Linked DNA regions of Homo sapiens: region 1 is linked to region 2. A link means that fine-mapping ties the variant in region 2 to the plasma level of a protein whose gene starts in the linked region. Region 2 holds a variant in brackets. A gene starts in the other region. All regions are shown on their forward strands.

Region 1 (2,906 bases), not on the chromosome of region 2:
TTGCTCATCAAATTGCCCCCAAATTGCCCCCACTTGTAGAGTCTCCATGGCCTACTGTCTGCTAAAGTAAAGCAGAATCCCAGTCCTCGTTCCAGACCTGCCAAGTCAGAGTCTGTTTTCATGTGATTCTCACACACATTGGCATGTGAGAAGCACTGAGTTAGACCTTGGTGCTTGGCCCACCCTTGACCATGGTCCTCCTCTCTGAACAACGGAGGTGAGGAGACCAGTAGTAACAGCTGTGTCAGGAACAGGTCAGCACCCAGGGATCCACACAGACACTTTTGACCATTCCTAAGTCCTGCCTGCACAGGAAGTTGGCCACTAAAGATAGGCTGCCTGAAGGAAAGGACATAAGGACCTTTGCAAGCTGTTCAGCAGGGAGAAAAAGGGTGGAACAGGAAAGGGAGGAAAGCAAGTTTCTGGATTCCCCAAACCACAGTTTGTCTAGGTGCTACTTTCTCACTTTTCCTTATTTAGCACATAGCTTTGTCATGAGACATCTTTTTGCTGACCTCTTTTCCGTTTGCATTTTGCCCCATATTAGAATGCTACCATCTAAAACCGCTCCATGAATTAGAAAGTTTAAGTTGTCAGGGACTGAATGTGTCTGTTTTCCAACAGTTTCTGGCAGTTCCCTGCTTTTATGGTGTAGTCATGGTGAAACCTGAGTCATCTGAAGATGGTGGCAGTGCCAGAGAGCAGGAGAGAGGAGCTGCAAAGAAGCCAGACAGCGTTGGGCATCAATAACTCCTGGGCACCACCGGCCACTGGCCTTCATTCTGACAGGAGAGCCAACCCAACCCTAACTGTGTTCAGAGATTGCTCCAAGCTTTACAGTTCTACCAAATTCTTTCTGTAGCAAAAATATAAAGGCATCTTCTTAGGTAATTTTTTTTCAGGGTTCCAAGTAGCAACACCTAACGTCTGCAGTGCGAGTTCTCTTCTTCTTTTTTTTTTTAAGGTGATAAATCATAACATTTTCCTGGAAAGGAAAGCAGTAGACCTCATTTTTTGTTTTAAGGAAAAATAGTTTTTCTGTTTCCATTCATATACATTAAATAACTACCCAGGAAATACGCCCCGGTTTTGCGCGCGTGTGCGTGCGTGTGTGTGTGCGTGTGTGTGTGTGCCGTTTCTCTAAAATTCTGACTCATAGTCTGGAGGACAATGATTGACTTTTTTCCACTTCACATAGTTGCTATGAATTTCTCCTCACAAGGATGGGCCTGTTTACTCACCCTGGGCATCGTTGGTAGAGCGCTAGTGTAAACAGCCTGAGGAACCCGGTGGGCCGGGGAAGTGGGCGCGCTCTGTTCTCCGCGGCCAGCTGGGACGCCGGGCCAGGTGGGGCCGCCTGCGTTTAGCAACTGCTTTCTCACCCCCTGGATTTGCGATGTTTGCCACAGCAGCGAGAAGCGCCATTGTAATGGGGATGGGAGGGGTGGAGCCTCCAAGTCCTGTCTCAATTTAGATCTCTCACTCTGCTGTTAGGCGCGCCCATTTCAGATTACTAAACTCGAATTAAGAGGGAAAAAAAATCAGGGAGGAGGTGGCAAGCCACACCCCACGGTGCCCGCGAACTTCCCCGGCAGCGGACTGTAGCCCAGGCAGACGCCGTCGAGATGCAGGGCCCACCGCTCCTGACCGCCGCCCACCTCCTCTGCGTGTGCACCGCCGCGCTGGCCGTGGCTCCCGGGTAGGAACGTGGGCGCGCGGGGGGCGCGCGGGCGCGCGGGCCTGGGCCGCTCTGCGGCTCTGGGCCAGGGCTTCGGGGAGGTGGCGGCTGCTGTGCAGCAGCGGGTGGGAAATGCCCTCGCGGCTGCAGTCCCCAGCCTGGTACTGGCCTGGAGGTTTGACCATATGTAGCTTCAGCGTGGCTCTCCATGGGACAGTTAACTTTCTCCACTCATGAAGTTGTTTAAGCGTCTCCCCGGCCATAACAACTTTCTGAAGAGAGTCATTTTATTTTTAGTCCACATTGCCTCTGCCTTTTGCTTCTCAACTTTTTGCTCCCAGATTGCGATTCTTCTCTCAAAGACATGATATATTTTTTCTAACCAAGATGTCTCAACCTTAGCATTGCCAAAGTGTGGCGGAGGGGACTGATGTATGGGTTCAGGGGCAGACATTATAGGAAGAAAACAACAGCACCCAATAATGGCAAGCCCCATTCATTCCTAAAGATTTCTGTAGTTGAGCCCTAACCCCTAGTTATAGCAGAGAAAGTGCTGCTTTAGTGACTTCTTTTATGATTCGCTATACCTGGAATTTTCACCAGTTGTAGTTTATTTTCAAATGGTATATTTCAATCAATGGTATTGGTTAAATAATTTTTTACCCTCGTTGGGCAGCTACTCAAGGATAAAGGTTTGAATAAGAAACAGGCAAAATCTTAGTTAAAAAATAACAACAACAACAAGAAAATAATCACGCTGGGATAAGGTCCTCTGTAAAGGAGAAGCTTAGAGACTTTTGCTTTGCCAATAACTCCATTATGCCCCGGTGCAAGCCATTTACATCATGGTTCCTTCTGTGCGGTTCGTGGTTTATAAAATGGAAATAATAACACAGGCCTTCCTCTAGTAGTGATGCATGAATTACTGCATTAAAATTGATTTATGGGAATTATTGTTGTTTCAGTAGCATTTCAATTCAGTTGCCAAATAGAGCAGTGGGCAATGTTAACGGAAACAACTGCAATTGGCGCAGTATGGAGTGCCTATCGCACTAGGAAATCTGAGGGTCACAAAAGAAAGGAGATGTGAGGATAAGAAACTTTGTTTTTCCCTTGTTGGGAACTCTTTAGGCCTCGGTTTCTGGTGACAGCCCCAGGGATCATCAGGCCCGGAGGAAATGTGACTATTGGGGTGGAGCTTCTGGAACACTGCCCTTCACAGGTGACT
Region 2 (2,906 bases):
CCTGGGGTGCTGAGGGATTAGGCCAGGCTCTCCCTGGGCCAGGCTCAGGTGGGAACACTGGCAGGCTGACGCATGTATCCTCTCTCAGGGTGTCTTGGCCATGGCGCCCTGGTGCTGCAACTCCTCTCCTTCATGCTCTTGGCTGGGGTCCTGGTGGCCATCCTTGTCCAAGGTCAGGGGCAGGTTCTGAGGGTCTGGGGTCCCCAGGCCTGGCCTTTTGGCTATGAACAGAGCCTGGAGTGGCCAGGTCTGGGAGGGAGGTGGGACTGAGAGCCAAGATGTTGTCCCTGGGGGTCTGTAGGGGCCTCTCCCACAGCCCCTCCCCACTCTAGAGCAGGACAGGAGAGGGAGGAGGAGGAGGGGAAGAACCTGGCTCTCCTTGGCCTTCTGTGCTGCCTTCTCCAGGTGTCAGTTTTCCTCATCTTCAAAGGGGATTAACTGAGACCTTGGCTCTCACAAATGATGTCTCTATGGGGCTCAGTTCAGGGCTTGGCACACAGTAGGTGTTTAATAATTGCAGTTCCTTTTCTTCTTGGCCCAGTGTCCAAGGTCCCCAGCTCCCTAAGTCAGGAACAATCCGAGCAAGACGCAATCTACCAGAACCTGACCCAGCTTAAAGCTGCAGTGGGTGAGCTCTCAGAGAAATCCAAGCTGCAGGAGATCTACCAGGAGCTGACCCAGCTGAAGGCTGCAGTGGGTGAGTTGCCAGAGAAATCCAAGCTGCAGGAGATCTACCAGGAGCTGACCCGGCTGAAGGCTGCAGTGGGTGAGTTGCCAGAGAAATCCAAGCTGCAGGAGATCTACCAGGAGCTGACCCGGCTGAAGGCTGCAGTGGGTGAGTTGCCAGAGAAATCCAAGCTGCAGGAGATCTACCAGGAGCTGACCCGGCTGAAGGCTGCAGTGGGTGAGTTGCCAGAGAAATCCAAGCTGCAGGAGATCTACCAGGAGCTGACGGAGCTGAAGGCTGCAGTGGGTGAGTTGCCAGAGAAATCCAAGCTGCAGGAGATCTACCAGGAGCTGACCCAGCTGAAGGCTGCAGTGGGTGAGTTGCCAGACCAGTCCAAGCAGCAGCAAATCTATCAAGAACTGACCGATTTGAAGACTGCATTTGGTGAGTTCCTGCACATCAAGGGTCCTTGGGCCTGAGATGGTCTCTGTGTGATGTGACTTTACTTGAGTTACC[A/G]ACCCTGCCTGAGCCTCAGTTTCCTCCCCTGTGAAATGAGAACACGGGGTAACTGCGATCATTGCACTTGGTGTTCACAGTGGGCCAGGCACACAGTAGACACTCAGTTCAACCAATCCGCTGCCTTCTGTTCTGAGCTCTAAAGCTGCTAATTCTCCCAGTCTGGAAGAGATGGAGCCAGGACTCCTGGGTTCTCCTGGGGATCAGGGAGAGTCTTGGGAAGTAGGGAGAGGAATGGTCTCTCCCCATTCCAAGCGGTCCACCCAACATGGACAGTCAAGGAAGGGCCCTGATTTTCAAGGGCTTGAAGGCTGGGCAGATATGGGAATATGGACAACCTAATCTGAGCCCAGCCCTGACCAGCCTCCCCCAACAGAACGCCTGTGCCGCCACTGTCCCAAGGACTGGACATTCTTCCAAGGAAACTGTTACTTCATGTCTAACTCCCAGCGGAACTGGCACGACTCCGTCACCGCCTGCCAGGAAGTGAGGGCCCAGCTCGTCGTAATCAAAACTGCTGAGGAGCAGGTACACGTGGTGGGGGTCCTCGTCCTGGCCTGGGGCATGGCTTCTGGCCAACTGGGGAGGAGGTGCTCAGAGAGGATTTTGCAGAAGAGGGGCTTTGCTCTATTTGGAAAGATGGGAAGAGAAGGATATGAATGAAGGGGTCCCAGGTACCCTTCAAGCAAATACAAACCAGATCTGAACACATGTGAATATTTGGGGGAAACGTCAAATGTAAGCAAACCACCACAGCATGCTGCAGGTGTTTAACGGCCAGCTCTCCGGAGAGAAAATTCCTGATGTGTTGTGTTTGCCAATTTCCCCAGTGTAAATATTTCCACTGCGGCTGATTTCAAGCTGTGATGTGCTGTCACTCAGTGCAGAGCTGAAAGGAGATGTGCTGGACCAGCAATTAGTAGTGGGTCCAATGTGGCTCCAGTACATGAAACCCAGTCAGGAGTAAATTCATGTGGACATGCAAAATAGATAAACATGCAGCATTCACAGGAGCACATGAGGAGAGGCCAGCTGTGCATGCGTGCCTGCATGTCAGGACACACATGCCATGGGGATACAGATGTGAGAGGGGCTCAGACATGAGGAGGCTCAGGACCTGCTATATCAGAAAACTGCAGGTTAACTTGAAAGCAGAACTTTCTGCCAAGAGACGGGGAGGTGGAACCTGGAAAATGGGAAGCAGAGCTCCCTCCTGACTCCTCCTCTACCCTCCAGAACTTCCTACAGCTGCAGACTTCCAGGAGTAACCGCTTCTCCTGGATGGGACTTTCAGACCTAAATCAGGAAGGCACGTGGCAATGGGTGGACGGCTCACCTCTGTCACCCAGGTAGATTCTGGGAGAAAGGGACACTGTATCCAGTCGGGCTGGGTTCCTGCAACTCTGACTTGAGCTTTCCCTGGGGGTCCCCCCCAACCTCCCTGACCCCATAGGACTAAGAGTCTGGGGTTTTACTGAGTTGAGGAAGGTGGTCTTCATACCCACCTCCAGACAGGATGAAAGGTGCCAAGAATTCCACCAGCAGAGCTGCAGGAGGAGCTTGCCCTGTGGGTAGGTGTGTTAAAATACAGTGTATTAATAGGAAGTCTGAAGTCTAGTAAGGCCACCAGCTCAGGAGACAATTGCCATTTACACAAAGTGAGTAGCTTATCCTACCCACAGGTTCCTAGAGGGCGCACATTTCACAGCAGGGGGCCGCTGGG

Which allele goes with the higher level. Alleles are on the strand shown, and positions count from the first base shown. The strength of an association depends on the size of the effect and on how common the allele is.
As copies of A replace G in region 2, the plasma level of the protein whose gene starts at base 1,613 in region 1 goes up (weak association).

The links. A credible set is the group of variants that fine-mapping cannot tell apart. PIP is the chance, under the fine-mapping model, that this variant and not a neighbour inherited with it causes the effect. The UK Biobank Pharma Proteomics Project read protein levels with antibody pairs (Olink). The fine-mapping took linkage between variants from a reference panel, not from the people measured, so its PIPs are less certain.
Region 1: CD109 starts here. The variant in region 2 is the best candidate, but not a certain one, in a credible set for the plasma level of the CD109 protein (UK Biobank, PIP 0.51).

The regions. Positions count from the first base shown.
Region 1 is chr6:73,694,591-73,697,496 of GRCh38, forward strand. CD109 (CD109 molecule) reads left to right here and starts at 1,613. Exons shown (of 33, transcript NM_133493.5): 1 at 1,613-1,699; 2 at 2,810-2,906. The coding sequence starts at 1,626. CD109-AS1 (CD109 antisense RNA 1) reads right to left here and starts at 1,541. Exons shown (of 2, transcript NR_110889.1): 1 at 1,242-1,541; 2 at 1-985. RefSeq lists enhancers at 1,243-1,502, 1,456-2,170 and a silencer at 1,733-1,782.
Region 2 is chr19:7,765,097-7,768,002 of GRCh38, forward strand. CLEC4M (C-type lectin domain family 4 member M) reads left to right here. Exons shown (of 7, transcript NM_014257.5): 3 at 89-172; 4 at 542-1,111; 5 at 1,560-1,711; 6 at 2,420-2,532. Among named protein-coding and RNA genes, the nearest start is that of CLEC4M, 3.3 kb to the left of the region's middle. The variant A/G (reference allele first, on the strand shown) is at 1,184.